Homo sapiens: one gene and its partners. The protein of the gene in region 2 purifies or fractionates together with the protein of the main gene of each other region. This does not show direct contact. Each region holds a gene or a part of one and is shown on either strand. Other genes may lie near its edges. The genes, in order: SUPV3L1, BHLHA15, LSM14B and DHX57.

Region 1 (7,590 bases), on a different chromosome or scaffold from region 2:
GACAAATAAGGGAATAACAGCTGGCTGCCACCCCCCAACCCCAGCCCCCAGCCAGCAGCAGCAACCCGCTTGGGTCCCCTTCCATGCTGTGGAAGCTTTGTTCTTTCGCTCTTCACGATAATAAATCTTGCTGCTGCTCACTCTTTGGGTCCATGCCACCTTTGAGAGCTGTAACACTCACTGCAAAGGTCCACAGCTTCATTCTTGAAATCAGCAAGACCACGAACCCACTGGAAGGAACAAACTCTGGACACATCGTGGTCCACCTGTCTTGGCCTCCCAAAGTGCTGGGATTACAGGCGTGAGCCACCGTGCCCGGCCAAGAGTAAATCTTAAAAGTTCACTTAGGATAAGCAACAGTTTAGCGTCTAGATCATGATAACCTTAATGTCAGAAAAATACTAGAAACTTCAACTTACAAAATTTGGTAGACAAGGTATGAGAGAGTAATCTACAGGATGTGCTTTTGTGAAACCTACACCAGATTTTGTTAATAGCAAAAGCAGGCCGGGCGCGGTGGCTCACGCCTGTAATCCCAGCACTTTGGGAGGCCGAGGCGGGTGGATCATGAGGTCAGGAGATCGAGACCATCCTGGCTAACACGGTGAAACCCCGTCTCTACTAAAAATACAAAAAAAATTAGCCGGACGTGGTGGCGGGCGCCTGTAGTCCCAGCTACTCGGGAGGCTGAGGCAGGAGAATGGCATGAACCCAGGGGGCAGAGCTTGCAGTGAGCCGAGATTGCGCCACTGCACTCCCGCCTGGTGACAGAGCAAGACTCCGTCTCAAAAAAAAAAACAAAAAACAAAAAACAAAAAACAGCAAAAGCAAAGGCGAAGAAGAAATTAACTTGTATTATTTCTGCCACCTAGGTTATCTTCTCCCACTTCCTTTCCCCTTCTATTTATTTCCGTATTCATGCATGGATTTAGCATATTTACAGACTATCAGTTAGTGCTTGCTATGGTTTGAATGTGTCCCCTAAATTTTTTGTGTTGGAACTTAATCATCAAATTCATATATTGATTGGAGGTGAGGCCTTTGGGAAGTAATTAGGATTAGATAAAAGTTCTCAGTGTGGGTCCCCCATGATGTGACTGGTGGCTTCGTAAGAAAAGAGAAACCTGAGTTGACACACAGGTCTTGCTCTCTGGCCATGTGATGCCTTCTACCAGGTTATGTCAAGAGGGCCATCACCAGATGCCAGCCTCTTGATCTTGGACTTCCTAGCCTCCAGAACTAAAAGAAATAAATTCATTTTCTTTACAAATTACTCAGTCTGTGGTGTTCTGTTATAGCAATGCAAAATGGAGTAAGTGTTATCTTGGCCCTATCCTGAAGGAACTTTAATCCAGAGCAGTGGTTCTCAAAAGTGTGGTCTCAGACCAGCAGAGTTGCATCATCTGAAATGTTTTAGAAATGTAAACTCTCAGATCCCACTCCAGATCTACTGAATCAGAAACTTCAGGGATGGGGCCCAACAATCTTGTTGCACTCTAACGTTTAAGAACCACTGACCCAGAGACACAATTACGATAGTTTTCATTCTATGATAGAGCCTCTACTGGGACCTGTGATATGTAAGAGAAGCACCCAGTGTGTTCAGAGGTGCAGAGGTAAGAAACGATGATATAACTGGTGTATAGTTCCAGCATGAATAGAATGGTAGATGTGGGGAGTAGAAATAAAGCTGGAAGAGGCATATAGGGCCAACCAATTTAGGACAGAACCTGGATGCCATACGATGGAATATGGGCTTTATCTGAACATTTATTCAGAATCACCAAAGGACTCTAAGCAGGAGTAACTTACCAGATTTGTGTTTTCAAAAGATCATTATGGTGCTACGGCAAAGTATAGGAGGATACCAGTTACATAGTTACTGCATTAATCCATTCAACAAGCAAAATAAAACATTTATAGAGGCTCTAATATGTGTTAGGTGCTGATTACACTTACTGCTATAAATATGACATAACCAGTATAGATATGACATCTTTTTTTGTAAAAGCAAAAATTTTATATTGAATTTTCCCATTTCAATGTTTATAGTAGAACTTAATGAATGGCTGAAAGGGAAAGCCTGTATGTGCTATCATAAAATTCAGATTGCATTTTCTACCTGCAAGGAGGTGCAAACAAAATTACAGTTAAAATAGTTTTGAGGATTTTTTTTTTCTGTAAAACTATACTAGGGTTGGGCTAGATCTGTAAGACTAGTAACTGCCAGGTGCTGTGGCATGCACCTGTAGTTCCAGTTACTCAGGAGGCTGACACAGGATTGCTTGAGCCCAGGAGTTCACGATCACCCTTCCAAAGAAAAAAAAAGACTCGTACAAATGTTGATTCTGGCCTAATATGCTGCTCCTGTCCAAAAAGCCCACCTATTTGCTTTGAAATCAGAAAGACTGGCTGGGCACGGTGGCTCACACCTGTAATCCCAGCACTTTGGGAGGCCGAGGCAGCTGGATCACTTGAGGCCAGGAGTTCTGAGACCAGCCTGGCCAACATGGTGAAACTAAAGAGAATACAAAAATTAGCCAGGTATTGTGGTGCAAGCCTGTAGTCCCAGCTACTCGGGAGGCTGAGGCATGAGAATTGCTTGAGCCTGGGAGGTGGACGTTGCAGTGAGTTATGATTGCACCACTGCACTTCAGCCTGGGCAACAGAGTGAGACTGTCTCAAAAAAAAGAAAAAAAAAAGATTTAGATTTGTATCTGACTCTACCACTTACTGGGGCAAGTTAGTTAACCTGGTGACAATAATACCTCTAAATTGTTGTCAAGCATATTAAAAGATTAAAAGGAACAACATAGTGCTTGCCTCAGTTACGTATTAAACGTTTGGTTTATCCTTCATTCTCCTAGTTTCCAAATCTGACGAGACATCATTGTTTATTAACATTTTCTAGCATATTTAGTCACTCACTACATTATCTAAGGAGTCTTGTAAAACCTCTCATTCCACATACATGGTCTCCATCATAACTCAGACACAGGAATCTACCACCTTCAGCTAGAACTGTTGATAAAGTTGTAATTTTCCTCCCTGCATATTTGTGTTTATCCTAGTCTATCCTAGGTACTTCCTAATGAATGATTTCTCTTCTCAAAAATATAATCACTATTTGTAAGCCATAGAATTAGGTCTGCGTTAACTCTGTTACTTAAATTTTTTTCAGTATGTCTTTTCCTTAGTTAAGCCTCTGCTTACATCGTTTCCACTGACTAGAATTTACTTACCGCTTCTCTATGTTTTACTTTTAAGTCTGGCAGAAATCTCCTTACCACTCTCAAATTGCTCCTTTCTTTGAACTGCCATTAGTCTATTAGAGTAATAAGTGCATTATTTAACGTGTACTGTTCTTACCACCAAAACCAGATCAGAACCTTTGAAAGCAAAGGACTGTCTCCTTGTATCCCTGATGTTTAAAAATTATTTTGTGAATCAAAGGCACGTGGCAAATTGTTACTGGAATCCTATTAGACATACAGTATTGTATATTACATAACACGTTCCTTCAAGTTGTAAGATCTTAATGATGTAAGTATAAAGAGATGTGGATGGAGATGCTAAACTTGTGAATTTTTTTTTTTTTTAGACGGAGTCTCACTCTGTTGCCCAGGCTGGAGAGCAGTGGCCCGATCTCGGCTCACTGCAACCTCTGGCACCCAGGTTCAAACGATTCTCCTGCCTCCGCCTCCCTAGTAATTGGGATTACAGGTGTGCACCACCACGCCCGGCTGATTCTTGTATTTTTAGTAGAGAGGGGATTTCACCATGTTTGCCAGGCTGGTCTCGAACTCCTGACCTCAGATGATCCACCGGCCTCGCCCTCCCTAAGTGCTGCGATTACAGGCGTGAACCACCACGCCCGGGTTAAACTTGTGAATTTAACATGTTGCAGCCTCACATGAGAACACGGTATTCAACAAATGCAATGGAACGAAACTATGGCTGGGGTACAGAGCACGTATTTTTGCCATGTGGTCACAACTATGTGGTCATAGCTGCTAGGATGATGTACGCAAACTGCTCACATTAAAGCAAAAGTACTTACGTAATACAAGGGGTTTAATAGTGCAACAATATTTCTTAGCAACATTTCTGAGGGGCATATCAAGTTATTATCGCTAACGTTATCATATCAGGAAATGACGGTTAACAATGCAAGAAACTTTTGGGAAATGCTATTTAGTGTTTGAGTCCGCAAGACATACTCGTACCCTGAGCATTCGCAGTTGCTGCTCCACCACCCATTCTCTCACTGCTCACCCACGTGCTTCTGGACACTTGCTTACCAAAGTACTAGTTTGCATCACGTGACACGACTAGCAGGCCCCCTCCGCTCATGTATGACATCCCAAAGATGCCTGATTATTTTCCCTTCTTTAGGGAAAGGTGGTCCCAATCACCAACAAAACAGAGAAAGAGAACGAGAATTATCTCTAGTGGTTTTGCCTGCTAATCTTCTTTTTCCCTGAAAGAACACCCTCACGGCACGGCGTTTTCCTTAACGGTCAGGCGTTTTCCCGGGCAGCTTACCTGCTCGGCCTGGGTCTTTCTGGACAGCAGGCGCTGGAGGTGCGCGTCACTGTCCGCCGCCGTGTCCGCGGCTGCGCCAGACAGTGTAGAACCTGCGGCCTCGATGTCCTTCTCCCGTGCCCTATTGTGGGCTCGGCTCCCGGCGGGGCGCCAGGCTGGCCACCGGGCAGCCATCTGCTCTGCCCTTCGTCCCCACTTTGGGCCCTTTCCCGGGGTTCTGGGGCAAGTTTCTGTCCTTGCCACCGCCTCCTCCTCTGCCTCCGGTGGCTCCAAAATACCAAACACGTCCTTGTTCGTGCCCCTGACTGTGAAACCTCAGGGCCCCAGCGCCGACGGCGACGTCGGGGCCGAGCTAACCCGGCCTCTGGACAAGAGTGAGTGCGGGAACTACTGAGGGCGGCAGAGGGTGGTGTCTGCTGGGCCGAGGCTGGTTGGGAGGAAGCTACATCCCCTTCCCCTGGGGATCCGAGGTCCCATCGAGTGTTGTCATCGTGCCTCTCAGTGTCTGCCTCCTTCGCTGGTGTGTGAGCCCCTCAAACGGCTTAGGACTGTATCTGATTAATTCTTAACGCCTCGTCCCAGAAGCGGCCTTTTCCCTTTTACTGCCCTGCTCTCTGAATGGTTTAGACACTCATGTGTTGGGAAGATTTGACTTTTTTGAGTTGTTAGGTGGACGCCCGCTCTTTCTTGCATTCTTTGTTTCTCTCCCACCCCCGAATGGGATGTGGCAGTGAAAAGCCAGCGGAGACTCCTTTTAGGATTCTTTATCATTGAGGAGGCGCCGACTCATACCACGCTGTTAGGCTGTGTGGTGGTTGCCAAGAGGAACCAGACTCAGATCCAGATCCCCTCTTAAGAAACGTAACGGTATCGTGGGGGAGGACACGTGTATGGAAAGTGAACTGTAATACAAGGTAGAACATGACAAGGTCTAGAACAAGGTAGGGTGTCCCCGGCTCCAGAGAGAAAAGAAGAGGTAGCATCAGTTAGTGGCAGCGGGCTTTGCTCAGCAAAACTTAAGTTTGGATGGATTCGTTGACAGAGAGGCATGTGAATGTTTTCAAGGTGAGTTTCGGGATGATTAGGGAGGTAAGGGAGTTTCCTCTGACCATATGAAACTGGGAGATTGAGGAAATGCTATCCAGAATTGTCTCCAGGAATAGGAGGAGAAATGTCTCACTTCAACAAGCGACATTGGTGCCTCCTATTGTAAATCTAAAATATAGACTACAATATGTTTTTCAGAGCAGAAGTACAGTACTTTCACTAAACATGTGATGGAACTCACAGTATATGTTATTCTTTGACATATTCTTCCAGTGTTAAGCAAGGCCTTTCACTTTACTTGGTGCTGGGAGACTGTCTTTATTTTCTGCTGTTATAACATAATACCTGAGACTGAGTAATTTATAAACAATAGAGGTGTATTTGACTCATGGTTCTGAGCCGGGATCTGATGAGGGCCTTTGGCTGCATCATCACATGGTGGAAGGTGGAAAGGCAAATGAGCCTGTGAGACAGAGAAAGGGGGCTGAACTTATCCTTTTTTCCTGTGATAACTGACTCCTGTGATAATGGCATTAATCCACTCACAAAGGCAAACTCCTCATGTCCTAATCACCTCTTAAAGGTTCCACCTCTCAACTGTTAAAATAGCAATTAAATTTCAATATGAGTCTTGGAGAAGACATTCAAACCATAGCAGAGAATGTGTTATTTTAATAATGTAATTATACTATTATTTATTTTTAAATTATAAAAATACATAAAATTTACTCTTTTAAGCTTTTTTTTAGTTTTTTTTTCTTTACTTTTTTTTTTTTAGAGACAGGGTCTTGCTCTGTTACCCAAGCTGGAGTATAGTGGTATGATCATAGCTCACTGTAACCTCCAACTCCCAGACTCAAGCAATCCTCCTGGCTCAGCCTTCTAAGTAGCTAGGAATACAGGCGTGCATCACCATGCCTGGATAATTTTTTAATTTTTTGTAGAGATGGGGTCTTGCTATGTTGCCCAGGCTGGTCTCAAACTTCTGGGCTCCAGGGATCCTCCTGCCATGGCCTCCCAAAGCCCTGAGATTACAGACCTGAGCCACTGCACCCAGCCAGTCTTAATTGTTTTTAAGCACATAGTTCACTAGCGTTAAGTATATTGACATTGTCGCGAAATAGATGAGAACTTTTTCATCTTGCAGAGTTGAAACTCAAACAATAGTTTACCCATTAAAGAACAATTTTCCATTATTTTATATTATTTGAAGGCATAAGGTAATTTGGATGAGATAATTTGCCTTATTGTATTCAAATATTGATAAATTCTTATTTTCTGCAGCTATTCCAATTCACCTGAAAATGTAAATGTCTTTGCTGCTTCCTGTAAGAAGATAGAATAAAGACATGGGTTTGTCAGCACTAGATTTTCTTCTGGTGGAGAATCCTTAGATACTTCATTGGGTCTGTGTGCCAGGTGATTTTTCATCTCCTTTGACTGGGATTGGTCCAGATGTTGAATTTACTAGAATGATTTTTCAGCATGGCAGGAGGGGCTACAGAAGATGGTGCATTACTACACTCTGATATAGCCATGTGGTTAAGGTGTCAGATTTCCACTTAGCTTAGCAATCAGGACAAGAAGCTGTCACTTCTCAATCTCTTTTGCCTACTCATAACCCAAAAAGTTGAGGTACTTAAAGGCTTTGTCCTGCGTCACCTTGCTGCCTTATTCTGTGCTGTCTATGGGGTGTCTCATTCTCTCTCTCCCCTCACTAATTCAGTATTCCTCTCAGATCTTTGTCTCTACCCTGGACCTCTCTCCTTCACCCTGGACCTATATATCTCGCTGCCTACCAGGTGTCTCCACTTGTCTTTCTTACACACACCTCACCTTAGCATGTCAAGACAACTTACCTTCCCCTCAGCCTGCTCCTGCAGGTGCTCAGGTCAAAACCTGGTAGTCTTTGTTCTTCCATCCCTCACCCCTACATCTAACAATCAGAGAAAGCCCAGTTAATGAGTCTTGTTGATTCTACCTCATAAATGTTGGATT
Region 2 (7,483 bases):
GAGTGCCCCTCCCAAGGGGCAGACCCAGCATCCTGGAGTCCCCACCCCGAGCTGTGCTGAAGGACAGCTGGGGCGGTAGGGCCAGGACCAGACCAGGCCTCTGACAAAGTCTCATCGAAATGAAACCAATGTGCCCGGGCCACCTTAAGGGGCCCTGACCAGGAAAGTTAGGCCTGAAGCTGCCAATGCCAGATCCTCAGGGTGTTACCTGTGTCCTTACGTGGCTAGGCCTGACCCCAAGTGCCACAACCCCCAACTTGGGGAGGGCAGGGCCACCTGGTGGGGACGGGCCAGCCAGAGCCCTTGGTCTCAGCTGTGGCAGCCACATCCCTGGCCCGGCTTGGCCCTGAGGGCCTTTGGGACATCTCTGGGCAGAGGCATGAGGGAGGGGAGAGTCCAGTAGCCAAGTCCGGCAGAGCCAGTGGGGCAGGAACGCCCAGCAGAAGGAAGCTGGGCTTGGGGCAGCAGAGACGTGCCAAGCCACCAGGCCTGGCCATGAGGATGAAGCACCTGGGCGGGGGAAGGGACGTACCTGCCACCCCAAGGCTCCACCAGGCAGAGAGACCCAACGGGCTGCCAACTCAAACCAGAACCCAAGCACGTCATAATGTCCTACAGACAGCATGGTGCCAATTATATGATAACCCCACATCAGTGAGAATAAGTAACGGCGGTGGCAGGGGCTGGGTGGGGGGCACACTCGCTCCCCACACAGGCCAGGGCTGAGCAGGAGGCCTCAGAGCTGCTCTTGGGGAGCAACCCAGGGCCTTGGGGCTTCTCTCCCATGCCCAGAAGGGCTGCACCAGGAACACCCAGCCCTGTCTCCTGCTCCAGTTCCACAGCACCCCTCACACCCTGCCCCAGACCCTCCACAACCAGGCACAGCCTGGAGTCAACACATCCAGGAGCCCCAACTTGGGAGGAGGGAGGAAGAGACTCCAGCCCCTCCCCACCATTCAACTTTTAAGGATGAATTGGAGGTCATCTGATTAGAGTTTCTGGCAGCTCCAATCATCTCTGATTGGCCCCACTCCCCGAGCAGCCTTAGGCTCTGCCGGGCTTGTCCCGGGCCTCAGTTTACCCCAAATGAGGATGCTGAGCCCAGGCCCCATGTAGCCCTATAACAAAGGTTGGAGAGGGGGTCCTTGCTGGGGCTTTGGCCTTGGAAAACCTGCAGGTAAACCTTTTCCTGGGATCTCCCCTTGCCCAGAAGTCAGGGTGAAGAGACGTTAGTTCCAAGGCTAAGGAGGCCTTTCAACTCGGGCTGAGACTGCCTGGCTCAATGAAAAATCAGGATCCAACTGGGCCCTACCTAGAGGTTTGGGCCTCACGCCGCTGTCCAGGGCCACAGCCGCAACTAGGCCACTCGCTGGTCCCCAGCGGGGCAGGAAAAATTGCTCCAGGGAAGTGGCTGAATGTTCGGGGGAAAATGGAACCGCTGAGGCCGTGTCCTTGTGGGGTGTCACCGCCCATCTGGGGCTCGTGGCTTGGAGGGACTGGGGCTGGGAGGAGCAGGCCAGGCAGCTGCGGCCACCGCCACCCCCACCCAGGACTGGGCGCTAGGTGCCCTCTCGGAAGCTGTGGATCTGCGTGGAGTACCTCTGCAGGTGGCCCTGGGGCTGGGCCTCCGTGGCCCCCAACGCACCCCCAGCCACCTGCTGCTGCTGCTGGTAGTGCTGGTAGAGCTTGGGGCCCGGCCCCTCCAGGCCTGGGAGGCGGCTGCTGGACATGGTCAGGATGGTGGCCGTCAGCGATTTGATGTAGTTCTTGGCCAGCGTGAGCGTCTCGATCTTGGAGAGCTTCTTGTCCGCGCGCACGTGGGGGATGACTTCACGCAGGGCCTGGAAGGCGTTATTTAGCTTGTGCATCCGCTGCCGCTCCCTCTCGTTGCTCTCCAGCCGCCGCTGGATGCTGCTGTCACGACGGCCACCGGGCCCGGAGGGTCCTGGCCGCCTGCGCCTGCCCTCGCCCGGAGCCCTTGCTGCGGCCCGGGCCGGCCGGCTCCGCAGACCCTTGGCCGGCTCTGGCCCCGGGTTCGGCAGGGACCCGTCGGGCGTCCCCTCCCCGGGGGTGGCCTCTGTGTCCTGCACCGGGGCCCGGCGCCGTGGGGGCCGGTTCTTGGTCTTCATGGCCCTGGACTGGCTGTCCTAGGAGGTGGCGGCAGGAAGGTGAGGCCCTTGGAGCTGAAATCCAGAACACAGGACACTCTGTGGTCACCCCACATGGGCAGGGGACCCGCTGGGGTGCCGTCCCTGGCAGCCTCCTCCTTGCTGACAGCAATGGTACCAGGGGCAGGGGTTGGCGCTCTGCGACTGGAGGTCCTTCTGTTCACACGCTTAGCCCTGGGCTGACCCCACACACACCCACGCCCTTGCTTTACCTCAAACAGACCTCTGGAATCTGTCCCTGTCCCTGCGTCCCCCTTCCCCCAGGATGACTCATCCTGACCCCTAGATCTTCCTCTGGCTCATGCCCCTCACTGCCCCCAGAGTGCCTCCTGAGCTCGGTGACCTTTGACACTTTGCCTAGAATGCGTCCCCCACCCTAGCTTAGGGGGCGCCTCTGCCGGAGGCGGCACTGACTTCATCCCGTGGGCGGGCAGTGACTCCAGCCACCAGGCTCTCACTGTCCTGCCCCGCTGGACGTGACACGTGCAGGGACAGCACTGGGGCCAGAACCGCTGCGGACATGGGACAGCACTGGGGCCAGAACCGCTGCGGACATGGGGCAGCCGTGGAGGTCAGAGGTCGGCAATGGCCAGGGCCTGGCGGCAGCCCCCAATCCCACCACGTGGATGGGCCCCGTGGAGCCTCCAGACAGACCAGAAGTCCCCCACCCGGGTTTCCCCACAGCCCCCACAACCCCCACAACCCCACCGCCAGGTCCTGCCCCTGGGTCCCCTCCCCGCGGCCCCACCCGAGTTCCCAGCTCCCGGGTTACCTGGGGATCCGCGGCCACACGCGCCGAGGCTGCCCACGGGGGACAAGGACACGTCGCTTTAGCCGCCCCGGGAGGGGCCGCGGACGCATGCAAATGAGCCCTCGGGGCGGGGCCGGGGCGGGGCCGGGGTCCGGGTGTCCCGGCGGGCGCTGGGCAGCAGTGGCGGCACCTGCGGGCGGGCGGGCGGGAGGCCGGCGCCTGGGGCTCCCGGACCAGGTGGCCGCGCAGCCCCGCCCCCAGCTTCCGCCCCGCCCCCAAGATAGAAAACCTCCCCCGCCCGCCTCTCCCCATCCTCCCCCTACTGCCCCCCACCCTCGTCCCCCAAGACAGCCACCCCCGCCCGCCTCTCCCCACCATCCCCCGACAGCCCCCGACCCTCGTTCCCCCAGACAGCCTCCCCCACACGCTTCTCCCCATCCTCCCCCGACAGCCCCCCAACCGCCCCGAGATAGCTTCCCCCCATTCGTCTCTCCCCATTCTCCCGCTACAGCCCCCCCAAGACAGCCTGCGTCCCCACCTCCCCTACTCCCGTCCCCCGACAGCCTCCCCACAACCTGCTTTTCCCCATCCTCCCCCTCAATTTCCACTCGCGCCTTTCCCACCCGCCTACCCCATATCCGTGCCCGAGACAGCCTCCCCCCGCCCGCTTTCCCCGACCCTCCCCCTGACACAGCACCCCCGCATCCATGCCTCCCGCGATCCTCCTTGCCCGGCCTCTCCACTCGTGGCGGGGCCCGGGCCCATTCCGCCAATGGGAAACAGGTCTCTGGGAGCCGCCGGAAGGAGGGGCAGCCCCGATTCAGGCTCAGCACACAGATCCCAAGTCCCAGGAGCACTCCGGGACGAGCCGCTCCGCGAAAACGCGGGCATCTCCCAGGGGATCCCCCGCCCCGCCGCCCGGGATGTTTAGGGGAACCTGGGGCTCCTACGGGCTGGGGGCGGAGCCCGAGTTGGGGTGGGGGTGGGGGGCTCCTTGGGCAGGTGTGCAGTCCTTGGGAACGCCTGTTTTGTTTGTTTGTTTGTTTTTGAGACGGAGTTTCGCTCTTGCTGCCCAGGCTGGCGTGCAATGGAGCGAGATGATCTCGGCTCACCGCAACCTCCGCCTCCCGGGTTCAAGCGATTCTCCTGCCTCAGCCTCCCGAGTAGCTGGGATTACAGGCATGCACCACCACGCCCAGCTAATTTTTGTATTTTTAGTAGAGACGGGGTTTCTCCACGTTGGCCAGGCTGGTCTTCAACTCCTGACCTCAAGTGATCCACCCGCCTCGGCATCCCAAAGTGCTGGGATTACATGCGTGAGCCACCACGCCCAGCCAAAGCAGCATCTTGCTCAGGGACTATTCGGGGCTGCTAGGGGTGCGGTGACTGCACGCTGCTGGGGGTGCGGTGAGTGTCACGCTGGCTGGCAGGCCTGGGCTCCACACTCATGGGTCTCGCCGCTCTGTCTCAGTACCTCTGGGTGGGAACTCAGAGGGGCCATAGTGGGGCGGGGGGCGGGCACAGAAAGGCTAGCTTGGAGCCAAGGTTAGTTAGTTCTTCTCTTGGCCTAAAGCTCATTTGAGGCTGGGCCAAATGAGGTCCTTGGAAATGAAAATGCTTCCGAAATTCATGAGTGCAAAGGCATGGTTTATAGACATGCTTCAAGGTGGCAGGAACACTAAACAGGTTTGGTTTTCCAGTGGTTATACAAAGCTTTATGTCCTCAGGAGTGCGGGGAGTTTAGGTCTGTCACACAAGCTCCAGAGGGACCAGGGCAGGGGCCTGGAACACAGGCTGCGGGCGCTCACAGCAGGGCAGGGCCAGGCCACCCACCCAGGTGGCCCTTGCACGGTGGACAAAACACAGAAGAAACGCGGCCAACAGAGTTTATAAATATATAACTATATTTATTTTGAATATTAAATAGTTTTTAAATTACAAGCAATTTATTGAATCACACTATGCATCAATATACAGTAAAAATCTTACAATTTAAAAATGTACACAATTTAAACTGAAAGTTCATTGACTATTATATTGCCATGAACCTCTTCTGCCTGTGTTAAAGCACAGCAGGGAGGCCTGGTGGGTGTGACGGCCCCCTACGTCCTCCTCTGCAGACGGAATCCGACGGTGGATCCATACACCAGCCCCATGATCAAGATCCCGCTCGGCCCACGTAGGCCTGAGTGCTTAACCAGCACGTGTCCACACCGGTCAAACTGATCTTCACAGGCTGTTGGTAATTCAACACTGTCAATGCATCTTTAAGAATTTCTTTATAGATGAAAGAGAATGTTCTTTGTTAATAAAGACTTGAGCCAACCCCATTGCTACTTAGGAATATTGTTTTGGAGATTTCCATCGGAAGTCACTGCGTATACCCATTCTTTTTTTAAGGCTACTTCCCATAAGGCTCATGTTTTGAAGCCACTCTAACAGAAGCCCAACCTCTGGCGTCTAACCCTTGGTTCACTTCTGAATTTTCAGATGATGGGCTGAGTTAAGGAAGAGCAGGCGCTGCCTTCCTTCCACCGGGGCCCTGGGGACAGGCATGCAGTAGGTCCTTAACTCTACAAATACCTTATTTCGGGAAACAGGAATAAAAGGAGGGGTTTGGAAAGGCCTTTTACAGCAGCAAGACAAACCAAGACTTTTCTTAGATAAACCCATTTCTATAGAAACGATCGAACCTGTACATTTAAAAATAGAACGAACGTTGTTTGCAATTCGGCTTGGTCGAGCTTTCTGCACCCTTACGGTGAATGGCTTCTCGTCCACACACACAGGCCAAGTCTCAGAAGGATGTGGGGAGCACTTTTTCTGGGTTGCCCTTTCTGGCTTATTGACAGGGTCATTCAAAAAGACAAATTCGCATCTAGCTAGTAAGGAAATGAAAACTAGATTATTTTTGTTATAGGATTTAAAATGTACAAACTCCACCAAAACAGGACTAATTCAGATTGATTCTGGGTTGCTACCCCATAGAAGGCCAGAAAATATTCTAACCTTCCCCCACATTATCTAGAGAATGCCACTGATTTAGTTCATTGTACAACTTATTAGAACAAGTACATTTTGAAAACCCACCACTGATAACCAACTTATTAGTTAAAAAATAACAAAACAAACAACAAAAACCTGAACTGAACACAGCACATGCTGACATTTCAAAAATGGGCTGCAATTTTTATTCTACTTAAATTTCCTGTGTATTGCTTGGATTTCAAAAAAACATGTTAACCCACGTGTTGATTATAAATATAAAATCTCGCCCCTCCATGCAACACCACACTAAGATCCACTACCCCCCAACTCAATGTATAAAATGCTTTTTTGGCAATTAATTATGAGTGACTCAAAATAAATAAAAATGGGAATTATGTTATGAAAAAAATTGTTTTTTTTTTTGAGACAGGGTCTGGCTGTTACCCAGGCTAGAGTACAGTGGCATGGTCTCAGCTCACTGCAACACCCATCTCCTGGGCTCTAGCCATCCTCCCACCTCAGCCTCCCAAGCAGCTGGGACTACAGGTGCACACCACTATGTGCCCCAGCTAGTATATATATATATATATATATTTTGTATTTTTAGTAGAGACGAGGTTTCGCCATGTTGCCCAGGCTGGTCTTGAACTCCTGGGCTCAAAGTGATCCGTCCGCCTCGACCCCCCAATGTGTTGGGATTGCAGGCGTGAGCCACCGCGCCCGGCCAAAATCTTAATCCTAGTGGAAAACTGACAGCCCCAAAAGGTTAATAAATGTACTCGAGGCTGACACTGTATAAGACGACGACAGATTCCATGATCTGTATGACTTTGGTCATTAAATCTGAACTCCTTAAACCTGCAATTGAAAAAGTAGTATAATCACGTCTCATTTCTCTTCAGCCAAGACTAATCTTAGATGTAAAAACTGAGAAAACTCAGGAAGTCCCCACAGCAAGAATTCAGAGTCATGACAATTTTGGCAAAATCATCTTCTAATGCCCTGTTAATTAAAAAAAAAAAAAAAATTCGCGCATCCCGAGACAGTGGTGCTCCCCACATAGCCCAGGTGGGCACCGCATCCACCCCATGCCTACACAGGAGGGGACTCTCTCCATCCTGAACTTCTTGCTTTGGAAAGTTATTGCTTAGTATAAAAAATGAGAGGAGTAGGGTGGAACTGGCAATGAAGGTCATTTGCTGCGCACTCTCTGGCAACGTCCGCCTGCATTTTGCACTAGGACTCAACTTCCTTCCGTGTACCCCAGGCGGCCCCTGCACGGGTCTGGAGAGCACCCCAGGTTGCGCTGGAGTCTGGAAACATATCAGCACCGGAAAATATGTTGGGTGAAGGGTGAGTATGAGGGGACTGCAGGCCCAAGGACCCCCGAAGGAACGGCTGCCTCCCCAGCACAGCACAGCCGCGCTGCACCAGCCACCGAGGACTTCCTTATGTCAGAGCAGAACTCAGGGAGGGAGGTGTGAGGTCGCCCATGACCACAGGGGCTCGTGACGATGTGACGAAGCTACACTGGGAGCACTCGGGCCCTTTCAAAGCCAGAAGAGAACCTGGGGCT
Region 3 (7,028 bases), on a different chromosome or scaffold from region 2:
GTGCTGCAGCACTGGCCCCTAACTGGCCAGTCAGCAGCCACACTTGCCCACCGTCCAACCACTCTCACCAAGGACGCCGTAAAACATCAGACCGCACCACGCTTCAGCACAAAACCCTCTGATGGCTTCCCGCGGCACTTGGAACAAAAGCCAAAGTCACTGCCATGCCCTACAAAACCCTACAGGAACCCATCCCCCAGACTCGGCCTGTCTGGAAGCACTTCCCGCACTCATCTGCGCAGCCTGCTCTGCCTGTGAGAACTGATCATCCACTTCCCATCGAGTTACAGCCCCATCCCATCGCCCTCACTGCCTGGCCTTCACGACATGCTGTTCTATTTTTCCCCTGGCAGAACATGAACCTGAAGAGGTGGCGCTCTCCAGCCTGCCTTCTGAGGCCCCCTCAACGCCCCGCGGCATGTCTGGCGCTCAATCTGCAGGACAAATGGGCCCAAGTTTCCAAGCCAGGCCCACACTGTAGATGCCACCCACTCCCTAGGGTGCTTCGCGGGACTTCTGACCAGCTGTTAGGTGTGAAAAATAAAACACACCACATGGTCCCTGGCCTCAAACAATGAAGTGAAGGAAAGCCAGTGTGAGCACGTTCTAGCCATACCTCAGGCTGCTAAGCAAGGACCTCAGGCTGCCAGGCCAGCGGGACCAGCAAGCAGAGCACCGTGAGGTATGCTGAATGTGGACACGGGTCTGCCGGGGGGGGCGGTGCAGCCCAGCCTTTGTGGGGACAGGGCAGCAAAGCCAAGAGGAAACAGGCTCGACCTCAGCCAACTCCTCGGGTCGGGATCCCCAAGAGGCTTCCCACACGCAACCTGCTGGGACTCCGGCACCCATCATGCAGAAACGCAAGCAGGACCCTAGAACAGCTACCCTGAGCCTCAGAGTCCAGCTCTGCCCTCAGGTTGAGAGCCCTCAGCCCTGTCCTTTCTAGATTGGAGGACTGTCCTCCCCTCATTCATTCAGCCTCTCACCTGGTCTTGAGTTCAGAAGAGATGTTGTCGAAGAACGACTTGGATTTGTCATAGTAGCAGTTGGGCCCCAGAAGGTCTTCCTCAGCGGGCGCTTCGGCACTCTGGGTCACCACAGCCAGGTCCTTCTCTTCCCCCTTCTCAGCCTTGTCATCTACAAAAAGAAGCAGAACACGTGGAGATGGAGGAGGGGCAGAGCGCACAGCCTTTTAGCAGGGTGGTCCCTCCGGGCTCACTCGGAAGCCACCCTCAAGCTAAGACATCAACTATGCCTTGTGCAAAGCAGAAATCTCTTCTTCTACCTTCTAAGTACAGGTCTCGTTCTGCCGTCTGGGCTGTGCAGTCTGCACCTTATCCCACCCATTTTCACACCTCCCAGCACCTCACTTCATTAATTCCTCACTGCCGGTCACCATCCGCCTGGCATCCCCGGTTCCTCTAGGCATCTCTTCCTTTTCCTTGAGACAGAGTCTTGCTCTATCGCCCGGCTGGAGTGCAGTGGCGCAATCTTGGCTCACTCCCACTGCAACCTCCACCTCCTGGGTTCAAACGATTCTCCTGTCTCAGTCTCCCGAGTAGCTGGGATTACAGGCGCCCACCACCACGCCTGGCTAATTTTTGGATTTTTAGTACAGATGGGGTTTCATTGTGTTGGCCAGGCTGGTGTTGAACTCCTGACCTCAGGTGATCCACCCACCTCAGCCTCCCAAAGTGCTGAGATTACAGGCGTGAACCACCACACCCGGCCAGGCATCTCCTCCTAACACTCTCTAGGGGTACTCCTGTGCAGAGAATAATTTTCATATAATGAGCCAAACCTTTAAAATTCAGTTTCTTCTTAAATTCTTTGTCAAGCTCCTCTCGGTTGAACTGGGCATTTGCACTCTCGAAATCAAAGTCACCCTCAAATTTGATTGTGTTTTCCTTAACGTTAGTTGGACGGTTTTGCCCTCTGGAGCGATTCCTTGTTCGCCTGTTTCCTGTGAGGACAAAGGACAGCCCTGGCTGAAGTAGGTCACCAACCCAGTGATCTCAAACACCTCACAAGGAATTTCCAGGCACACCCCCAAGGCCACAGAAGGAACAGAGCACACAAGCAGCGACTTCACACCAGCACCCCTGAAACCGTCAACCAGAGAAGCAGGCAGGAGGGCAAGCAGAGCTCAGCCTGATCACTCGTGGTCCCCAGAAATCAAGTGGCAACAGGTGTTACCTGATCGCCTCCTCTGAGGTCTTCTGTTCTCGTCATTCACCTGCCCTTGAGCTTGCACAGCTGCCGGCTGGACTACATCTACGGCGCAAAAGGGAAGAGTAAGGCAAAGCTCCTATAGCAGCCGGAAGCCAGAACCCAGCTGTGGAAGCAGGCCCCACCACCATGGGGCACGCGGCCAGGGCGGCACCGCAGGAGGCTGCTGCACAGGCCTGCCCTGCAAAAGCACATGGGGCTTAGGATGGGGGAGTAGTATTTTTTTAATTAAAAAAAAAAAAATAGCCCAGGAAGTAGTGTGCCACTTTTAGAACATCAAGCAAACTCCAGGAAATGATGTGTTCAAGTACCGCTGGCCGTCTTGCTGCTCGGCTGGGCCTGACGACCGTTGAGCTGCGTCCCTGTGGTGCCCTTGCCAGGTAACAGCTTTTTAGCATTCAGGTTGTCAGCAGAACCAGTCTGCACAGCCTGCTCCACCATGGGGCTCTTGCCGACTGGGATGGATGGAAAACCAGCTCCTGAATTGAGGAGGGGAGGAGGGTTTAAAAACAGAGAGAAAAGAAGCAAGCCTTATATCTCCAGGCATTTCTCTTCTGCTGGCATGTCAGGAAGGAAAGGAGGGCAACTGCCTAGATGTTCTATCAAATCCAGGCAAAGCACCCCCAGACTGGGCCATTCCCTCTGAGGCTAGCCCAGGCAGCAAAAGAAGGCCAAGAGTCACTGGGCAGCACCAAGGCCAGTTCATCTTTGGACTCCCCACTCCCAAAGCCCTGAGCTTCCCAAGTTAGGGAACCTCAAGGACAGGAAAAACACCGTGCCTACAAACAGGCACCTCCCCAGAAGTGTGGAAACAGCTTTCTTAAAACCACACAAGCTCCAATCCCAAAGGAGCTCAGCAGCCCCAAGATCCTGATGAATTCAGGATCTGAGAATTTGTTTCATTCTGGTCCACACTGGAGAAGAACCAGCCCAGCCTGGGATTTTCTAGAAAATGCAGTGAACAAATTCTGAAGTTAAATTCTACAACACTGTCATTTCCACTTAAGGCACAATAAAACTAAAAATGATGAAGCAGGAGCTGACTTCCGAGACGTAGCAGCCTACACTTCTCTCAAGGGCAAAGGCTCATCATGAAGACACAAAGGGCTCCTAGGTAGCCTTTGGCAAGGGGCTATGCCTATGAAACTGCAGTCCGAGGCCCACGCACAGGGGATGAACCCTCAGAAACCAGGCCCTCTGAATCAGGAGGAAAATGGGAAGCACCACCCACCTCTCTCCATCTCCTCCCTTTCCAAGGTTCCAGGACCTGTAGGGACTCTAAACAGGACAATGTGGGACTGGGTGTAAGTGAACAGAGATCTGAAACAGAAAAGGCACCCTAACCACAGGGTAATTATTATTAGACGAACAGCCCAATACACATGAAGACTGGGCATCTCATCTTACTGCTTTTACGGAATAGAAATGAAAAAAAAAATTGACTGTAGAAAAATTCCTTGTAACCAGATCAAGAGAAGCTCTCAAAGGGCAGGTTGGAACGACTCTGCATAGAGGTCTGGAAAGTGTCCTCTGGCGGGAATGCACCCGGGCCACTTTCTCACTGATTGTCTCACTCAGCATGTCCGGGAGACAAACACAGCACTGCCTGCCTGCTGATCATACTGTGACTGCAGGGGCATGGATAAGGGGCTTGTCTGCTTTTTACACAACCAACTAGTTCAAACAAAGTCTTGCCCTATGAGCAGGTTTAGGTAACTGATCCTAAGAGCAATAGAAGTATCTGTGTCATTTTTAAGTGGGGGAAAAAAAAAGACTACTCTGTAACTCAGATACACAGAGTGCATGCAGGATTTGGAAAGCAGCACCTGCAGAATGACAGACTGACAGCAGCTGTGTGCCATAAGGAAAGCCCAGGCATCAACCTGGACCAGGGCCGGGTAATGGCGATGGTTCAGCTTGTCAGGGTGCTATGTGTAACACAAACATACAGCAAGATCGTCAATATGAATTTTAGAACTTCAGGGGAAATGAGTAGAACGTGAGAAAAGATCTAGAAACCCCACAGGTGCCGCCACCACCACAGCACAGAGACAGGTGGTGTACACTGGCCAGCTGGCCATCAGGCTGATACTGTCCACCTGGCCAAACAGTTGGCGACTGTCACCCAAGCCCCTAATTTTGAATCCCCTCAATGAGTGATCTATGAACCACACGGATCAAAGAGCAAAACAGGCATGTCAGGTGCTTTGGGGAGTCCCCCCTGCAGCACTCTGGAACACATTTAGGACCCAGCAAAAACCCCAGGGAAATGACTTTCTGTGAACAGTGAAGTTTCCCGTATGTGGTAGTCATGGTACAGGTCAACAGAGAACCTGGACCCAGGGAGAGAGAACAAACTACTCCGCTGATTCTTCGTAATCCCTTCTTTAACACTGAGAGTTCATCAATCAGGACTACATGCTGAAGCAAAACAAGCAGCTCAGCGGCTGCATGGGCTTGGCAAATGATCTGCTACAGCTACTGTCATTCTGTCTGCTGCTTTACCCCTCGCTCTCAGAATGGTTTGCAAGACAGCATGCAGTTCTCCCAAACTGCTGTTACCCTTGGCAGTGAGCTGCTGTGGCTCTGAGGACAAGTCAAGCTCTGAAACGGGCTGTGGAGATGGAGAAGAGCTAGGGCTGGAAGCAGCGGCTGAGGCTGGAGGGCTTACCAACTTCTCTAAAGGAAGATAAAGGAGAAAGAGCAAAAAGAAAGCACACAAATAAGTCAGGATACACTTGTCTTGTGTCTAGCAAGCTTGGAAAGAGCCAAGCAACCTCTTGTAGGATTCTGTCATACAAACACGTTTTAGAAACCCAGAGAGCTGGGCTGGGAAGGCCGCCTGTCACACTAGGAATAGCAACCAAGCAAGCATGATTTGTAGCAGCAAGTGGCCTACAGACCTCGTTTAGGGTTCCCTGTCTCACTACTTCATGCTGGATTCTGAGCAAGGGTCGTGGATCACCTGCCAATTCTACACTCTGAGCCCATCTGCAAAGCTAGGTCCAGGTTAAGGACAAGGCAGGATCTTTCTCTACATATGGAGAATAGAATCATACTCTGGGGTTTTTCAATCTTGGTTGAAACCATTTTTGAGCGAGGCACTTACAGTAGAATAAGGGACATGATGGGTGGGTTTGTATTTCACGTCTATATTTACAGGCTTATAAATGTGCAAACAGCTAGACTTCATCTGTAATACTACATATATATCAGCTATTTCTTCTTTGAAGCAGATATACCAGGACTTCCACCTATTTATTTTTTGAGACAGAGTCTCACTGTGCCGCTCAGGCTAGAGTGCAGTGGTGCAATCTCAGTTCACTGCAACCTCTGCCTCCCAGGTTTAAGCAATTCTCATGCCTCAACCCCCCAAGTAGCTGGGATTACAGGTGTGTCCCACCACACCCAGCTAATTTTTGTATTTCTAGTAGAGACAGGATTTCCCCATGTTGGCCAGGCTGGTCTCGAACTCCTGACCTTGTGATCCACCCGCCTTGGCCTCCTAAAGTGCTGGGATTACAGGAGTGAGCCACTATGCCTGGCCCAGGACTTCCACCTAGATCCGCCCTGACTCTTCGAATGAATTTTGATTTGATTCTTCTGTTCCAACACTCAGGCTGCTGCCTCTTTTACTTTCAGTTGAGTAGTTACTAAATGCTCTCACAAGCGGAAGTTGCACTGGGTAATTTACTAAGTGTGCAACAAAACAGTCTACAAGCTGAGCATGACAGGAATGCATATCCCCACCCTCAGGCTCCATCGCTCCACTCAGTGACAGTTACACGCAAGGGTAGTTTACCAGACAGAAACAGGTCACTCACCTAGACCCAGGGAGGCGGCATACTGCTGGCTGAGCAGGGAGCTGGCCGCCAGCGGGCCGTAGGGCGCCATCCCTCGGAAAGGGCTGTAAGGCACGTGCGGCTGGAAGGGCGAGGCGGAGGCAGAACCCAGGGAAGACTGAACAACGAGACATCGGGTGAGAACGGCGAAGGCCATCCCATCACCCCGCACGCCTTCATCAGGGCGCTTGTTCAGCTGGGAAACAAGCACCGTCCCATCAGCCTGCACCCTTGAGATGCTGGAGGAGCCCTTGGGGTGCAAGTTTCCAGTATGGTGAGAGCTGCCTTTTCCACAGCATTTCAGTTCCAGTTTCACCTGTCCATGTAATTCCTTTTTTTGTTTTGTTTTGTTTTTTGTTTTTTGAAAGAGTATTGCTCTGTCGCCTGGGCTGGAGTGCAATGGCGTGATCTCAGCTCACTGCAACCTCTGCCTCCCAGGTTCAAGCGATTCTCCCAGCCTCAGCCTCCCGAGTAGCTGAGATTACAGATGCCCACCACCACACCCAGCTAATTTTTGTATTTTTGGTAGAGACGCGGTTTTGCTATGTTGGCCAAGCTGGTCTTGAACTCCTGACCTCAGGTGATCTGCCCACCTCGGCCTCCCAAAGTGCTGGGATTACAGGTGTCTTGTCCATGTAATTCTAACCCAAATTTCTCCTAACTCAAAGCCATCGGATGGCTTCCCACTGCTCCCAAAGCCGGCCCTGTGTGATCCCACCTTCCAGGATGGGTGCTCAGCACAGAACCTAATGCAGTCTGAACCCCAGAGGAGCTAGTGAATATTTAAATTTAGAAGTGAAGAAAATATTAATCTGGGCTCCCTGGGGGAGCATGGGCAAAATAAGCCATAACCCAATAAGCAGGCACATGGCATCAGACTTGCAAATCTGGTGTTGTATAACAGCAGCATGTAACGACTGGGCGTAACCCGAGGGCAAGCCCTGCAGTCCCTGCAGG
Region 4 (7,028 bases), on a different chromosome or scaffold from region 2:
GTATCAACAACAAAAAGTCAAAATGGAGAAAAAGTGAAAACTTGAATAAAGTAAGTTCATTCATTTCTAGTATTTCTATTTCTAAAGAACTTAAAATGCATCCTCAAATAAACTTTTATCAAGCACAAACAAAGTAATTAGCATTAAAAGAATTAGCAGTGAATGTTTCAACTGTACGCAAGTGTCCCCAAATCCCACAACGTAAAACAACACAAATATCTATCAAATGATGAATCAATGAACAAAATGTGGTATGTCCACATAATAGAATATTATTCACTAATAAAAAGGAATGATGTAGTGATATGTGCTAGAACACGGATGAACCTTGAACACATTAGCTAAGTGAAAGAAGCCCATCTCAAAAAGCTGCATATTGTGTAATTCCATTTCTATGAAATGTCCAGAGTAGGCAAATCCATAGAGATAGACAGCAGATTTGTGGTTATGAGGGGCTGGGGGAAGGGGAAAATGAGGAGAGACTGCTATGGGTACATGGGTACAGGGTTTCTTTTGGGGTTGATGATAACGTCCAGGGATTAAAAGGTGGTTATTGTTGCATAATTCTATAAAAATACTAAAAACCATTGAATTGTGTATTTTAAAAGAGTGAATTTTATGGTATATAAATTATGTCTCAATAAAACTATTATTTTAGAAAAAAAGTGCATGACACATAATTTTCATTTCCCAAGGAACACATTTGAATCCCATGCGCTAGAAGCTGCCATCTGGGAGTGGGTCGGGTGGTTAGTGAGTGAATCTGGCTAAATGACCAGCAGCCACATCTCAGAACAGTGTCACTGTTCTCTACTCATTGAAGTTTACCCAAGGACTCTCATGAAATAATACAAACTTTTGTTTCTCTGGAAGAAAGATAGATGGCAACCAATAAAAGAGGATCCTTTTTTTTTTTTTTTTAATTAAGAAATAGAGTCTCACTCTGTCTCCAAGGCCGAAATGCAATGACTCACTGCAGCTTCTACCTCTGAGGCTGAAGTGATTCCCCCACATCAGCCTCTTGAGTACCTGGGACTCAGAGGAGTGCACAACCATGGCTGACTAGCTAAGAAAATATATATATTTTCTAGAGATGGGGTCTCATTATGCTGCCCAGGCTGGTCTCAAACTCCTGGGGTCAAGCAGTGCTCTCACTTCAGCCTCCCAAAGTGCTGGGATTACAGGCATGAGCCACCACACCCAGCAGAGAATTCTTTGAAAGGGGCTTACTTGTGGTGTAAGAATCTGCATAGCAGCCCATGTGCGATGGCTCACGCCTGTAATCCCAGCACTTTGGGAGGCCAAGGCAGGCGGATCACCTGAGGTCAGGAGTTCAAGACCAGCCTGGCCAACATGGTGAAACCCTGTCTTACTAAAAATAGAAAAATTAGCCAGGCGTGGTGGCGGGTGCCTGTAATCCCAGCTACTCAGGAGGCTGAGGCAGGAGAATCGCTTGAACCTGGGAGTCAGAGGTTGCAGTGAGCTGAGATCATACCACTGCACTCCAGCTTGGGGGACAAGAGTGAAACTCCATCTTAAAAAAATAAAAATAAAAAGAATTTGCACAGTAAACCTAGATCTAGACAAAGCTAGAAGCCTGCACAAGTATTTGAGGATTTAGGGATTCATAGAGCTATCCCTAAAGAATTCTGGGGGTCTAGTACACCAAAAGCAGGAGGGTATGGATAGTGGTATAGAAAGCAAAATATCTCTAAAAATTCATTTGAAAGTAATTCAGTATACAGTATAAGAAGTAAACAAAAGAAAACCAAATGAATTAAATAAAACAGATTTTCTGAGAACGTACCTTAAGGTCCTTCCAAGCCTCGGATTTTATATAGTTAAACATACGTCACTACAAACTTTCAACTCAGGGAGCCCAACCACAGCAACACAATTGAGCCTTACAATTAAAGTCAGATACAATTACAGTTCAGGGAATTCTCATTCCCTTTTGCCCTTGGGACTTAATGGCTTGTTCAGCTTGTTCAAGATCACTAAGCCATCCTAGACCAGCCTTAAAGGCTTTGACTTCTAAACCCATCATTCTGAATGCCTCCCTCCACAAGATCAATGCCTTACATACCTTCTGGAATTTGATTAGAAACAAAAGAATTATTTGGAATCACTGTTTTATGACAGGCAGGATTATTTATTCTGGTCCTAGAGGGTACTGGCAGAAAGTTCACAGGAGGGTCACTATACTTGTGGTGGGTATTCGTTAGTAACTTGACTATTTCCGACTCTTCCTCTAAAAGGGTTATCAAAGAATATACGACAGGTTCCGAAGTTTCCGCAAATGTCAAGGCCTTGTCATAAAGAAACTCAGAAATATGTAAACGACAAGCCAGAGGTAGGTTCTCATTGGTGGAATAAAATGCCACGAGCGGAGCTTGGTAGGGATATTTGTGGTCTTTAGAAAATCGAATTTCAAGTTCATATAAAAAAGATGCATCTTCAATAGCATTAAGATGAGAATCATCTACACTTCTTTCTATTCTTCCAACAATTTGATTTGGGGGCACTTCATGTTTGAATCTGCATTTTGATCCAAATTTACAATTTCCTTTGAGGTAAAATTTACAGATTTCAAGTGAATTCTCTTGTACATTTTTGGTACTTTCTTTTGGCTTGGATTTGCGGAATCTACTTGTCAGATACTCCAGTTCTAACCCAATGGTCCAGACTCTGTTCTGAATTCTTTCTATAAATTTTTCTCCACAGATGGACTTGAGAGCAAATGCCTCTTCCTGTCGCTGTTCCATACACTCATCCAAGCTTATCTGGTTGACTGCCTCAGAGATCTTCATCCTCTCTCCAAATGTCTCTGAAAAACACTGGGTAAGGAGATGCTCTAGTGATGCTCCCACATCTCCATCACACATCCTCAGGACCGCTTGACAGCGTTCAGTATTGAAACCATACCTGTCAAGGGCAAAACATGACAAAAATGACACATAAAAAGCAGTATCACACCATTACAGTAAAATTCATTTAAATATGCTTAGATGAAGTTATGACTACACATAGGCAGGGCTTGTATTTTGAAAAAGCATCCCTGATAACAATAAGCCCCCCTGAATGACCCCTTCTGATAAGATAGAATATTAGGCCTATCAGGCATTGCTGGAACCCACATAATAGGAAAGTACACAAAGAGGGGTAGTGGGTTTATATGATTTCGGTTTCCTTGAATTCTTTCCCAACTCCCATAAATGATCAAAGCAATCACCTGGAAAGTTTTTGCACTGCAAATGGGGAGACTGTAAATTCTGGAACATAAGGCTCCACTGAGGCTAAGCCAGCATATTCCAAAGGATCCAAGTCGGGAACGAGGGAAGGTTCCTGTCCAGCTGGCCAGTACCGCTCATCGTTACAGCAATCAGGCTCATCATCTTCCTCCTCCCCAGAAAGGCCTCTTCTAGCAAAGGCAACATTTTCATATATTAGATATTACTTTCTACTTACTTCAAAGAAAAATTTAGCAAAGGTCTAAGAATTTAATTCATAGGATCCTGACTACTCTTCAGTTGCTGATTTAATCTTATATTGAACTATTAATTTATATCTTGGCAATTAACATTTACCAGGCATTTATTAAATACCAGTTACTGTGTTAAGTGCTTTATATGAACTAACTCCTTTAATCTTCCCAATAACTGTACCAAATACTACTGGAATGTCCTTTTTTTTTTTTTTTTCTAGATGATCAACTAAAACTCAGAGAGGATTAGTAACTGCCTAGGTTACACATTAAGGAGCAAATAGAGATTTTGCCAAAGGCAGACAGATTCCTGTGTTCTTAACCACAGAAACCTTGGCTATTCTCTCTCTTCTCATTCATAAAAACACTATCCCTAATTGTTTGTTTTGCTACATAATCTCCCTTTCTAAATCTAAAACAGATAAGAGATTTGTAGATAGGATGGAAAATGAGCTGTTCATGACTGGCCACTAATTAATTTTGGTAAATGGAAAGAAGGAATTAACTTCTCCAACTGAAATCCAAAGCAAAAGAGCCGAAATGCAGTAGAGTGGGAAACGAATAAGATTTAAGAGTAAAAGCTTTCTCTTAGGCAGACAGTCATGACAAGCAAATCCTAAGACTGCACCTGACCGAGTCAATATTTGCTCATTCAACACTACTTCTACTTGTTCATTACAAGGGTTTATCTGGAAGGTTACAGATAAATCAGTTACTGAATCCATATGAGCACTGCCCTGGAAAAAAATAAAGATAAAAAGGCAATCCCATGGATGTTGCAAAACAAACTCACTCTAAAATTGTGGCTGAATAATTATTCTTGTATTACTCTTGGCTCACTTTCAACTAATTAAATGGCCACAATAGAATCAGTACTGACACAGCATTCCAAAGATGCACAGGACCTTCACACTGCCAGTATGTTTTCCTTAATATAATAATTGACTCAAATAAAACAATTTACTCAGATCCAGCATCAGCATCTTGTTCTTGCAGGTCTCGGAGAAGAGCTTTCACTTTCTCTTGATTCTCAGAAGTCATATGTAGAGTCTGAAGGGGTACTTTGGCTTTGGGTTTCCATTTTGGGCGTGACTCTCCTTTGCTTATGTTACTGTTGCTAGGTCTATAGAGAACAAAAGAGCAAAATTACACACATATCTTCAATCAGAACTTTTACACTCTCCTCAGGGGTCCCCAGATATACACAATACAAACTGGATTGTCAAGTATCTTACAAAAGATGACAATGAATGTGAGGAGATTCTCCATTTTCTATAGTATTTACCAGACTTCATTATATCAGACCTGCTGGAAAAAAACCTTATCAGATTCTTGGCCAGGCGCAGTGGCTCACGCCTGTAATCCTGGCACTTTGGGAGGCCGAGGCTGGCGGATCACCTGAGGTCAGGAGTTTCAGACCAGCCTGGCCAACATGGTGAAATGCTGTCTCTACTAAAAATACAAAAATTATCTGGGCGTGGCAGTGCGCTCCTGTAATCCTAGCTACTCAGGAGGCTGAGGCAGGAGAATCACTTGAACTTGGAGGTAGAGGTTGCAGTAAGCCAAGATTGTGCCACTGCACTACAGCCTGGGCAACAGAGCGAGATTCCGTTTAAAAAAAAAAAAAACAACAAAACTTAACAGATTCTTAATCATTAATTCTGGCTTCACTAACTCAAGAATCCTTAGGAAAAAGCAATGCTAATGATGGTTTCCTCTGCACTATAGGACATGAAGAGCATTTCATTTCATTCTGCATTAAAATCTGAAAACCACTGAGTTTCATTCTTCCTTGTGAATATTAAGGCCCCATTTCTAAAATACCCAATTATCTTTATTTCTGATTATTAAAAAAAAAAAAAAAAAGGCCAGGGGCATTGGCTCACACCTGTAATTCCAGCACTTTAAGAGGCTGAAGTGGTAGGATTGCTTAAGCCCCAGGAGTTCGAGACCAGCCTGGGCAATATAGCAAGATCCTGTCTCTATTTAAAAAAAAAGAAATAAAAAAATTACACAGCATATATAATCTCTTATGATTTGTCTGATCATTAGGAAATGATCAGTTAAACATGAGGGGGAGTTGGGAGTTTCACATGCTCCTATCTTAAAGTCATCCTTTATCTTAAAGTCAGCCTTTCTATTTGTAAACTATATGCCAATCTCTTTAATCTCCTCAAGGAAATCATTCCAGCACTTATCCCCCTTTCTAAATCACTGGTTTTTCATTCTTCTTTGGATCATTCCCATCAGCATACAGACATACTATAAGGTCTACCCTCTTAAAAAAATGAAACCAAGCCAAATCCTCCCTTGAGTGCACATCTCCCTGTAGCTACTGACCCATCTCTCCTCCCTCTAGCTCCCTTATAGTAAAACTTCTCATTTAGGTTATCAAAATCATTGTCTCTGTCTCCATTTTCTTTCCTCTTCTCTCTGAAACACAACCCAATCAGTATTTCCTATGCTACTACAGCTCTTGTCAAGGTTAACCATGATACCCACATTGTCAAATGCAGTGGACAATTCTTAGTGCACATTTTCCTTGACCTACCAGAAGCATTTTTCCACAAATGTGTACCCTCTTTAAGCATACAATTCGATCTTATTGGCTACTCTCCTTTAAAACACCTTTGTCCCTTGGCTTCCAAAAACCACTCTCTTAGTTTCCTACTTCATTGGCAGCTCCTTCTCAATCCCCTTTGTTTTTCATACTTTCTCTTAGCTTTATTTATTTTTTAACTAAAAATTTTTATTGACACATAATAATTGTACATTCTTTATACGGTTGATAATGGTTTGGCTGCAAGTCAAATCTCATCTTCAATTGAAGTTCCCATAATCCCCACATGTTATGGGAGGGAACCGGTTGGAGGTAGTTGAATCATGGGGGCAGTCTCCCCCATGCTATTCTCGTGATAGTGAGTAACTTCTCACGAGATCTGATGGTTTTATAAGGGGTGTCCCCCTTTACTTGGCTCTCATTCTTCTTTCTCCTGCCACCTTGTGAAGAAGGATGCTTTTGCTTCCCCTTTCAGCATGATTGTAAGTTTCCTGAGGCCACCCCAGCCCTGTGGTACTGTGAGTCAATTAAACCTCTTTCCTTTATAAATTACTCAGTCTTGGGTATGTCCTTATAGCAGCGTGAGAATGGACTAATACAGGGGTACATGTGCTATTTTGATACATGCATACAATGTGTAGTGATCAAATCAGGGTAATTAGGATATCTAACACCTCACACATTTATCATTTCTTTGTGTTGGGAACATTCCAAATTCTCTTAGCTTTAAAACCTAGAGTGTCCCAGGGCTCAAACATCAGATACCTTCTCTATTCGATTTTATCCAGACTCAGAACTTTAGCATTTATCTATAGAAGACTCACACATTTACATCTCCAGCCTAGATCTTTTTCTTGAACCTCAGATTTATATATTAAATTATCTATTTTATATCTACACTTGGAGAACATCTCCTAACTGGTCTCCTTGCTTTCAACTCATGCCCCTTTATAGTTTATTCTCTACAAAGCACACCCAGTCAAT

Evidence for each region.
Region 1: the proteins of BHLHA15 (region 2) and SUPV3L1 purify together in Homo sapiens (affinity purification with mass spectrometry; 2 studies listed by BioGRID and IntAct, with this or other methods). This does not show direct contact.
Region 3: the proteins of BHLHA15 (region 2) and LSM14B purify together in Homo sapiens (affinity purification with mass spectrometry; 2 studies listed by BioGRID and IntAct, with this or other methods). This does not show direct contact.
Region 4: the proteins of BHLHA15 (region 2) and DHX57 purify together in Homo sapiens (affinity purification with mass spectrometry; 2 studies listed by BioGRID and IntAct, with this or other methods). This does not show direct contact.

Annotation. Positions count from the first base shown.
Region 1 is NC_000010.11:69,175,644-69,183,233, forward strand, and holds the start of SUPV3L1 (ATP-dependent RNA helicase SUPV3L1, mitochondrial), read left to right. Parts: upstream 1-4,590; 5' UTR 4,591-4,648; coding exon 4,649-4,919; intron 4,920-6,876; exon of another isoform or gene 6,877-7,011; intron 7,012-7,590. UniProt on the Homo sapiens protein: Major helicase player in mitochondrial RNA metabolism. Component of the mitochondrial degradosome (mtEXO) complex, that degrades 3' overhang double-stranded RNA with a 3'-to-5' directionality in an ATP-dependent manner.
Region 2 is NC_000007.14:98,206,956-98,214,438, reverse strand, and holds the start of BHLHA15 (class A basic helix-loop-helix protein 15), read right to left. Parts: upstream 3,001-7,483; 5' UTR 2,941-3,000; intron 2,184-2,940; 5' UTR 2,130-2,183; coding exon 1,560-2,129; 3' UTR 1-1,559. UniProt on the Homo sapiens protein: Plays a role in controlling the transcriptional activity of MYOD1, ensuring that expanding myoblast populations remain undifferentiated. Repression may occur through muscle-specific E-box occupancy by homodimers.
Region 3 is NC_000020.11:62,125,465-62,132,492, reverse strand, and holds part of LSM14B (protein LSM14 homolog B), read right to left. Parts: intron 6,268-7,028; coding exon of another isoform or gene 6,190-6,267; coding exon 6,054-6,189; intron 4,909-6,053; coding exon of another isoform or gene 4,792-4,908; intron 3,569-4,791; coding exon of another isoform or gene 3,461-3,568; intron 2,709-3,460; coding exon 2,541-2,708; intron 2,275-2,540; coding exon 2,197-2,274; intron 1,964-2,196; coding exon 1,802-1,963; intron 1,138-1,801; coding exon 987-1,137; intron 138-986; exon of another isoform or gene 1-137. UniProt on the Homo sapiens protein: mRNA-binding protein essential for female fertility, oocyte meiotic maturation and the assembly of MARDO (mitochondria-associated ribonucleoprotein domain), a membraneless compartment that stores maternal mRNAs in oocytes.
Region 4 is NC_000002.12:38,858,913-38,865,940, forward strand, and holds part of DHX57 (putative ATP-dependent RNA helicase DHX57), read right to left. Parts: intron 4,608-7,028; coding exon 4,449-4,607; intron 3,422-4,448; coding exon 3,233-3,421; intron 2,926-3,232; coding exon 2,087-2,925; intron 1-2,086. UniProt on the Homo sapiens protein: Probable ATP-binding RNA helicase.